Regions from separate parts of the Homo sapiens genome. Here regions 1 and 3 are each linked to region 2. Evidence: fine-mapped expression QTL. A gene starts in region 2. Each other region holds a variant in brackets. All regions are shown on one strand. Distances are between the middles of the regions.

Evidence for each region. PIP is the estimated chance that this variant, and not a neighbour inherited with it, causes the effect.
Region 1: its variant is the best candidate, but not a certain one, in a credible set for the expression of TRIM36 in whole blood (INTERVAL, PIP 0.60).
Region 3: its variant is the best candidate, but not a certain one, in a credible set for the expression of TRIM36 in whole blood (INTERVAL, PIP 0.82).

Annotation. Positions count from the first base shown.
Region 1 is chr5:115,241,795-115,244,558 of GRCh38, reverse strand. All of the region lies in intron 2 of PGGT1B (protein geranylgeranyltransferase type I subunit beta), which reads left to right. Among named protein-coding and RNA genes, the nearest start is that of PGGT1B, 20 kb to the left of the region's middle. The variant TTC/C (reference allele first, on the strand shown) is at 1,592.
Region 2 is chr5:115,168,724-115,171,487 of GRCh38, reverse strand. TRIM36 (tripartite motif containing 36) reads left to right here and starts at 1,580. Exons shown (of 10, transcript NM_001300759.2): 1 at 1,580-1,880. The coding sequence starts at 1,854. RefSeq lists silencers at 1,165-1,584, 2,315-2,404.
Region 3 is chr5:115,208,246-115,211,009 of GRCh38, reverse strand. It overlaps PGGT1B (protein geranylgeranyltransferase type I subunit beta), which reads left to right. Exons shown (of 9, transcript NM_005023.4): 9 at 1-2,764. Among named protein-coding and RNA genes, the nearest start is that of TRIM36, 40 kb to the right of the region's middle. RefSeq lists a silencer at 1,642-1,751. The variant C/T (reference allele first, on the strand shown) is at 1,537.

The DNA.
Region 1 (2,764 bases), 73 kb before region 2:
TTTATTTTTTTTTTAAGTATAGCATTATGTACAATTTGGAATATGGGGGGTGTGTTAGGTAGAATCCTTTTTTTTTTTTTTTTTTTTTTTTTGTGAGACAGAGTCTCGCTCTGTTGCCCAGGCTGGAGTGCAGTGGCCCGATCTTAGCTCACTGCAAGCTCCGCCTCCCGGGTTCATGCCATTTTCCTGCCTCAGCCTCCCGAGTAGCTGGGACTACAGGCGCCCGCCACCGCGCCCAGCTAATTTTTTGTATTTTTAGTAGAGACGGGGTTTCACTGTGTTAGCCAGGATGGTCTTGATCTCCTGACCTCGTGATCCGCCCGTCTCGGCCTCCCAAAGTGCTGGGATTACAGGCATGAGCCACCGCGCCCAACCTGTGTTAGGTAGAATTCTAAAGATGTTGCCCCAGGATTTCTGTTCCCTGTTAATTCAGTCAAATACTAATCTGGGTACTGCTGTGAAGGGACTGTGTAGATGGGAGTTAAAGTTATACTAATCAACTGACCTTAAAATGTGGAGCTTATCCATAGGTGACATGTGTACAGGTGGGCTCAGTATAATCACATGAACAGCAGACGAACACAGAAACGTTCGTCATGGAATTGCAGAGAAAGGGAGCAGAAGAGAGAAGAGAAGGTAGAGAGGGTCTAATGGAAAAGATTTGAGTGCCGTTGCCACTCTGAGATATGGGGCCCATATATGAGAAATGGCAAGAGAGGATCTAGGAGCAAAAAGGGATACCTACCAGCAAAGAAATGGAGAACTCAGTCACACAACTGCAAGGAAGTTGATTCTGCCAGCATCCTGAATGAGCTTGGAGGCAGATTGTTCCCCCAAAGCCTCCAAGTAAGGAAGGTAGCCCTGCCTACACCTTAACTTTAGCCTGATGATGCCTGTGTTAGACTTCTGACCTTACAAACAGTAAGGCAGTAGGTGTTTTAAGTTGCCAAGTTTGTGGTAATATGTTATGGCAACAGTGACTAATACAGAGAACAAATTTCAGCCTTATTCATATCATCTCACACCATTCATATTATTTTGTTTATTCCCTTCCAGTCTTTGTTGATATGTGCCATTTGCTTAATTATAAACATAAAAATGCACATTTATTTTTGGATCCTACTTTTTTGCTTAACTTGATCAAATACATTTCTCTGTGTTGCTACATAGTTCTACTGATTATTATTTTTAATAGGAATATAGCGTTTCTTTCAGTACATGAGGCATGATATGCTTAACCTGCTGGACTTTTATGGTGCTTCTAGATTTTCACTATTATTAAACTGCAGTGTGCATTTCTTCTCATACTTGAAATTATTGGAATTGATTCTCAGATATATCATGACTAGGTCAAAAGGTTATGAGTGTTTTTATAACTTCTGTTATATATTGGCAAGTTTTAAGTAGCTTACCAATTTAAAAGTCCTTAGGATAAGAGAACCATAATTTGACTGGGTCAAAAGGATATGAGTGTTTTTATAACTTCTGTTATATATTGGCAAGTTTTAAGTAGCTTACCAATTTAAAAGTCCTTAGGATAAGAGAACCATAATCACTGAAATCATAATCACCATTAGTATCTTTTTTTTTT[TTC/C]AAGACAGTTTGACTCTGTCGCCCAGGCTGGAGTGCAGTGGCACGATTTTGGCTCATTGCAACCTCCACCTCCCGGGTTCAAGCAATTCTCTTGCCTCAGCTTCCCCAGTAGCTGGGATTACAGGCAGGTGCCACTACACCCATCTAAGTTTTGTATTATTAGTATAGATGTGGTTTTACCATGTTGACCAGGCTGGTCTGGAACTCCTGACCTCAGGTGATCCGCCCTCCTCTGCCTCCTCCCCAAGTGCTGGGATTATAGGCGTGAGCTACCACACCTGGCTGCTAGTATCTTTTTAAAATACATTTTTCGCCAGTAGGGAGATGATAATTGGTGGAGAGTTTAAATTTAGTGGTTCCTAATTTGTTCAAAGAATTAATGTATAAGCTACTATTTTAAGTTTTTTGGGGGGATAAGAAGCTGAAAAAATATAGTACCTAATGCAGAAGTAGGAGAGTGAAAACAGTTAATAATGAAGTTAGTCATACACTAGTCATAATCTCTTATGAAGGTAGTTCTTCATATCAGAGACTATTTTTAGACCAACTCGATTTTTTTTTATCAGCGGTGCATTTACAGTCTGCTGATACTGCATTGTTATTTTCTGCATCTATCATACTGATTTTCTAATAGCTATTAAAACCATAATTGTTGTATAGTTGATTGTTCTTTCAAGTTCCCAACTTATATTCCATTGATATCTTGAGAAATGAAAATTTTTAGATAGAAAAAAAGTATGGATAAACATATTTTGATTGAGTAGAGAGAGACTAAGTGCTAACTTACAGTGTTCTACATACTTCAAAGCCAAGTGGATTACTGGACTCAGAACGAAGGTCTAGCTAATGTGGAAATACAAAGTACATATTTTCTCTTCAGCTTTAAACCTTTAGTTTGCTCCCATGTAAAGAAGCAATGAGTTAAAGTAAAAACACACTAAATGAGTTAAAGTAAAAAGACAGTAGACCCTATTGTGTTATTAACCGTTACCTTGAACAATCACTTAACCTCTGGGCTTCTGTTTTCTGTTCTGTAGAAAGGGGGATTGAACATGTTGATCACATAAAAATTGATCTGACAGGAGAAGTATGAAAGGACTGTATAGGCAGTGAGGTGGGCTATTAAAAAAAGGTACATGATAGAAATAATTATGTTTTTTGTGACTCATAT
Region 2 (2,764 bases):
TGTATATATATATAGGCACCTAATTCACGCAGGCATTTGTTAGTCTCCTCCTGATTAGCACTTTTCAGAACCTGTGGGAAGGAAGCCTTCCCAAGTCTAGCACCTGCGGCCACGCAACGGGCATTAATCCGGATCAGAACAGCCCAGGCATTATTACCTGGCAAAGCTTTCGTCCTCTGTTCACCTCATCTGTAAATGGAGGGTATTCCATTAGAGAAAATTGCTATAGTCCCTCAGTGTTTTTAATTCTACACTCCTTATTTAGATGCCGGATTGGAGACGAGGCTACCGCTGCAGACAGGGCTGTGGGAAGACGACGGAACTTGCCACAGCGACAGACTTCTCCCAAACAGGAAATAAAAGTGGGAAGCATTTTAAAACCTAAACGAGATGTCTCGCTACAGCTCTGTAGTCCCTACTTACCCAGCAATTTAGGGCATCTGTTCTTAAAGCCTAATACATAGGAATGAATTGTTTAGCTAGCCAGAAAGGCAGTGCGTGATCTAATAATCCTAAATTAATTTGTTCTCCGTGTGTCCTGAAAACAACACCAGAAACACACTTGGGCCGTGGCAGGTGAAATGTGCGCCGCCAGTCCTTGAGCTGGCGCGCGCCTTAACGTTCAGCAGCACTCCCCGCGGGGGTGCGGGGGTGCCGGAGCCGCTCAGGACCCTCTGTCCTGGCCCTCAGGAAGGAAAGCGTAGGCCCGGGTGGCGGGGGGTCTCTCCCTTGCCGCGGCCTTTTAACTTCAGTCCCTGGCCAGCATCCGGGAGAGGAATCTCCACCCTGCAGGCGGTCCCCGCGCTACTGGGCAAGAACGTGCGGTGACATCGCGACTTGGGGGTATAGAAGCAGAAAGCGGGATATGACTGCTCGGTGCCCAGTCAGGGACTATTAAGTTCACCCAGCAAGTGAAGCCAGAAGAGAACTGGGACAAGCCGGGCGGGGCCAGGGAACCCCAGGCCGCGCCTGGCTAGGGACCGCGGAGAGGGCGGGCGGGGTCTCACTCTGGTCGCCTCGCGCAGCTCTGCCGTGCTCGCCGCGGCCATTCAGGGAAGGTGGCTTAGGCTCGCCCTCGCCCGCACCGTCCTGTGCCGAGCCTGGAAGCGGGGCTTCGAACCGCGAGTGAAGAAAGCGCAGTGAGAGCAAACTGAAGGGCGGAATGGCAGCGCAGGGCCAGGGGCCAGGGGCCAGGGCTGCAGCCGGCTGCTCTGCTGCAGCGGAGCCTCCCCGCCCCGGCGCCGCCCTCGGCACCCGCCCACCGCTCCCCGCTGCCCTCACTTCCGTTCCTCAGAGCCCCCCAGCCTGGCATAGGGCGACGGGCGACTACCCGGGTGGGAGGGAGGGGCTGATGCGTAGGGGGAAGGTGGCGGCGGAGGGCGCCGAGTCCCAACCGCGTGCCACACCCACGCCCAGCCGAGTCCCGCTCAGCCTACCACTCAGACACCCGGCCTACCAGCCCCAGGCGGCCCCGCCTCTTTTGTGCGACTGGCGCTGTTGCCTGGGCAACGACCAGGCCACGCCCTGTCCACGCCCCGCGGTGCCCCGCCCAGGTCTCTGCGCGGCGCCGTTCCCAGCCGCAGTCCGCAGGAGCCGCTGCTGCAGCCGGCAGCTGGGCGGGATTCCCGGGGTAGTCGCTGGGAGCAAAGCTCGCTTCTCCCGCGCCTGTGCTTTTGCCTGCCCCGGCTTACTTCTCCCCGCGTCGGTCCGCTGGCCACGTACAGCTGACCAGCTCATCTTCCAGCTTCGGACCGAGGCTCCACGGCCGCCGCAGGGACCCGCCCACCAGACCCTGCGCTCGGTAGCCGGTGTGAGTGGAACGTGCCGCTGATGACACCTGGCAGAAGGCAGCCATGGAGGGCGATGGCTCAGATTCGCCGGTGAGTGCGGAGGGGACCGCCGCCCCCACCTCGAGGGCGGTGTGCCGACCGCGGCTCTTTCTCTTTCCTCCGCCGGGAGCCCGGAGGGAGCCTCCTCCCGGGAGAGCAAAGGCAGGCGTGTGGGGATCCCGCTTCCTCTTCGCCTTCTCCCGCCCGGGGCTAGGTTCCGCAATCCGGGGCGTCCCCTTTCTATCCCCGAGAGCCGGACGTGGGGTCCCCTGGGCCGGAGAAGAGCGCAAATCCGATGGTTGCCCACCTGAGCACCTCGGGGGAATCATGGAGGGTCTCTCTAATGGAGCTCAGGCTGTAGAATTAATTAGCGTTTGGGAGTCGGGTGCGGGCAGAAAGCTGGGGCGCGTCCCTCGCGCTTGCGGGGCCGCCCTTTGTCTAGGCGTCTTGACCCCCGCGGGCCCGGCCGGCTGCCGCCGCCTGGGCCAGAGGCTCCTCCCCGGCTTCGCCTGCCCGCGGGGGGCGGGCCGGGGCCCCGGCAGCTGTCAGCCTACAAGTGTTTTTGTTTAAAGGTGTCGAATGTGCAATTCTTCCGAAGTTTCTCGAGGAACTGCTTAATTGAGGGAGCCGCCACATCACACTTAATCAGTTTGTTTCTCCCTCAATGACAGATGAACTAAATTTTCTCTTGGGTAAGAAATACTTTATGTCCATTGTGATTAAAAAGTCAGATTCAAGACACTGCTTTATGTACAAGAAAATGGAAATGATTTTAGATCCTCCCCCAGTGACAAGTAAACCTGAACTGACCATATTTATACATAAAATGGAATGTAAGAACCTATTTTGGATATCCCGGACAAGATTTTCTTTTGAATTAGGTGCCAAACCCTTTGTGAAATGAGATAGGATGTGAATATTCTGTATTCTTTGAT
Region 3 (2,764 bases), 40 kb before region 2:
AGGGAAAAAAATGTTGTGAAATAACAGTCCTTCCCAAGGGAAACACTGTGTACTTGGAGAAATGATTGATTTATTATTGGCATGCTTAGTTTTAAACCTGAGTTTGCCAACTGTATGTTTTTTAATTAGAAATAAAATAAATCTTCTGATGGTGGGGGAAAAAGTAAGCTTAATAACAGATGTTATCCGTCTATGGGTTATTCCAGTTGCTACTATTTAAATCCTGGCAGATTAAGACATCCATATCTCAAACTAAGTCATCTCTTAGACATTGGAAGTTAAAGTAGCATATATATAATGGCTTTAGGACTATATAAAAAGCCCAAATTGTTTTTTCTGTATCACCAAGAAAGGTTAGAAGGCAATAAAGGTAGTAACAGTGATTTTATTCATAAATGTTAGAGAAAAATTCCAATCTAAAAGTATTTCATAAGGCTAAATATTTTCTAACTCCTGATAATTTAATACCATAAGATTATAAATTTTAGTATGCTTCTAATTGATACACTTGTGGGAGACTTTCTTGTGAAACTTTATGGACTAGTAAATGTTCACATTCCACAGCAACTGAATTGACCAGAAAATAGCAGCCCAGTGTGAATTGTGGAGAAACTATTTCTAACTTTTCTAAATAGTTATTTACAAGAAAAGCATTTATCGATTAAATAAATTATAAGCAATATTTCACATATACACTTTATTCCTTAACAGGAGCGATGTAATGAGGGAAAATACGAAGTCCGAAATCTCAAAAAGCTCTGTTACCTACTCTATACTTGTCTCCTTCCCGCCCCCTAATTTTGTGGCATTTTTTTTTTAGAAGGTAGGAGGAGGAGCTTTATTTTGAGCATCTGTGTACAAATGAGATTAATCAGATCATATGGCCTAATTTAACCTGTTTATCATTTCAGTGTTTTTAGATTTGATCTATAATATATATGTGTTATTAGATCTTTAGTTATTTATATTTAATCTAAATTCATATAGAAATCTTGCTGACAGTGGTATATAATTTGAAAACTGTTGGACCTGATCATTTTTGAGAGACAGTTAATGAGGAGGTGCTCTGGAATCAGATGACCTGGGTTTAAATCCCAGATTTGCCAGTTCAGCAGCATGATCTTGGACCCTAACTCTGCCGTGGATAAAATAAGGGTAAAACCTAACACACAGGGTTTAGGATTAAATGAGATAATACAGATAAAGCACTTAGGATAGTACCTGGAATACAGCAAATTTCAAATTATAGGTTCTTTATAATGATCATAAAATTATTTTTGTAATTAAAACCTCTCTTCTACAACAGAAAGAGGTCTTAACAGTTTAACCTCAGGGAAAATGATGACAACAGTGTTGTTTTCTAATCTCCCCATAAGAATACAGAGCAACTAGGATAGCCACAGACACTATTACAACGCTAGATGACAAGGTATCTCTATGAACTTCAAAATACAACTAAGTGAGGACAAACCACTGAACCACATAGTTTCAGTATCTGTGGGAGGAAGTAGAAGGAAGGCAGCTGGTTTCTGACAG[C/T]TCTGCAAATTGGAGAACTACAACACTGCCCACAGTTTCTCAACTACAAAGTGCAGCGGGCCAATCTAAGAACAGACACTGAAACTGGGAAGTGACTACAGAATCTCATTTGCAGATGAATGTTAAAGCAATATGATAAGGTCTGCTGATTGCATTAGAGCTGTCTGGGTTTTACGCTGTGTACCTCTTGAAGCTTATGAGACAAAGCCCAGCACTGAGGACAAACTTCTAGAATTAGAATCCAAATGGGCAGGATGGGTAAAATAGGACAAAGGAAAGAAGATCTAGATAAGTATTGGGAAGAAAGGCCAAGACACAGAGACATTATATATGTGTATTTTCATATATATATATATTCTTTTAAATCACTGTGAAAATGGGAGCTCTAAGGCTGTGAAGTCATCCTAGAGCCACTCCTTCCTCCTAAAAGTACAGAAAAACTCATTTCAGTTAAGGGGAAAAAAAGAGTAAGTGAGCCAGGATTACAGTCCAACTCCAGTCAAAGTTAGTATAAGAAATAAGAGAATAAATAGATCAACATCCTCACAGACAATGAAAGCACACCGGAAGGACATGACCACAAGACAGATAAAAACCTAATATTTGCCAAAAAATAAAATGCAAATATGACAGGAAATTTATATTAATTAGTACAGTTATCAATAAAAGTAGGAAAAGGGGAAAATTAACCAAGTACCAAACACTTGGAGTAAAAAGCAAAATAAAGCAGAAGGAAGGAATTAATAAAAGCAAAAAAGAATTACTAGTAGAAAACCAAAACAATAGAGGCAATAATAAATCCAAGTTGGTGATGGGTAGTGCGGGGAGTTGAGTCAGATAAACTACCAGCTAACCTATTTAAGAAAAAAAGGAGGAAGCACAAATACAAAAATTTAAATGACAAGGGGGAAATAGTAAAACAGGAAATTTGTTTAAATTGACTATTTTGAGCAATTTTACACAATAAATTCAAAAACTATTTTGAGAAAAATGCAAATTGCCAAAATTTACTCTAGGTAGATAAAGTCACAACAAACCAATTACCGTAGAAGAAACAAATAGTTAAAAGTACCCCTTACCAAAAGAAGCATCAAGCCCAGATTGTTTCAAGGGGATTTCTACCAAACCTTTTAAGATTAAATAATCCCATTCTTGCTTAAACAATTGCAGAGACTAGGAAAAGAATCTTGAACCTCAAAGTGCCAAAAAAAGAAAAAAAACAAATAAA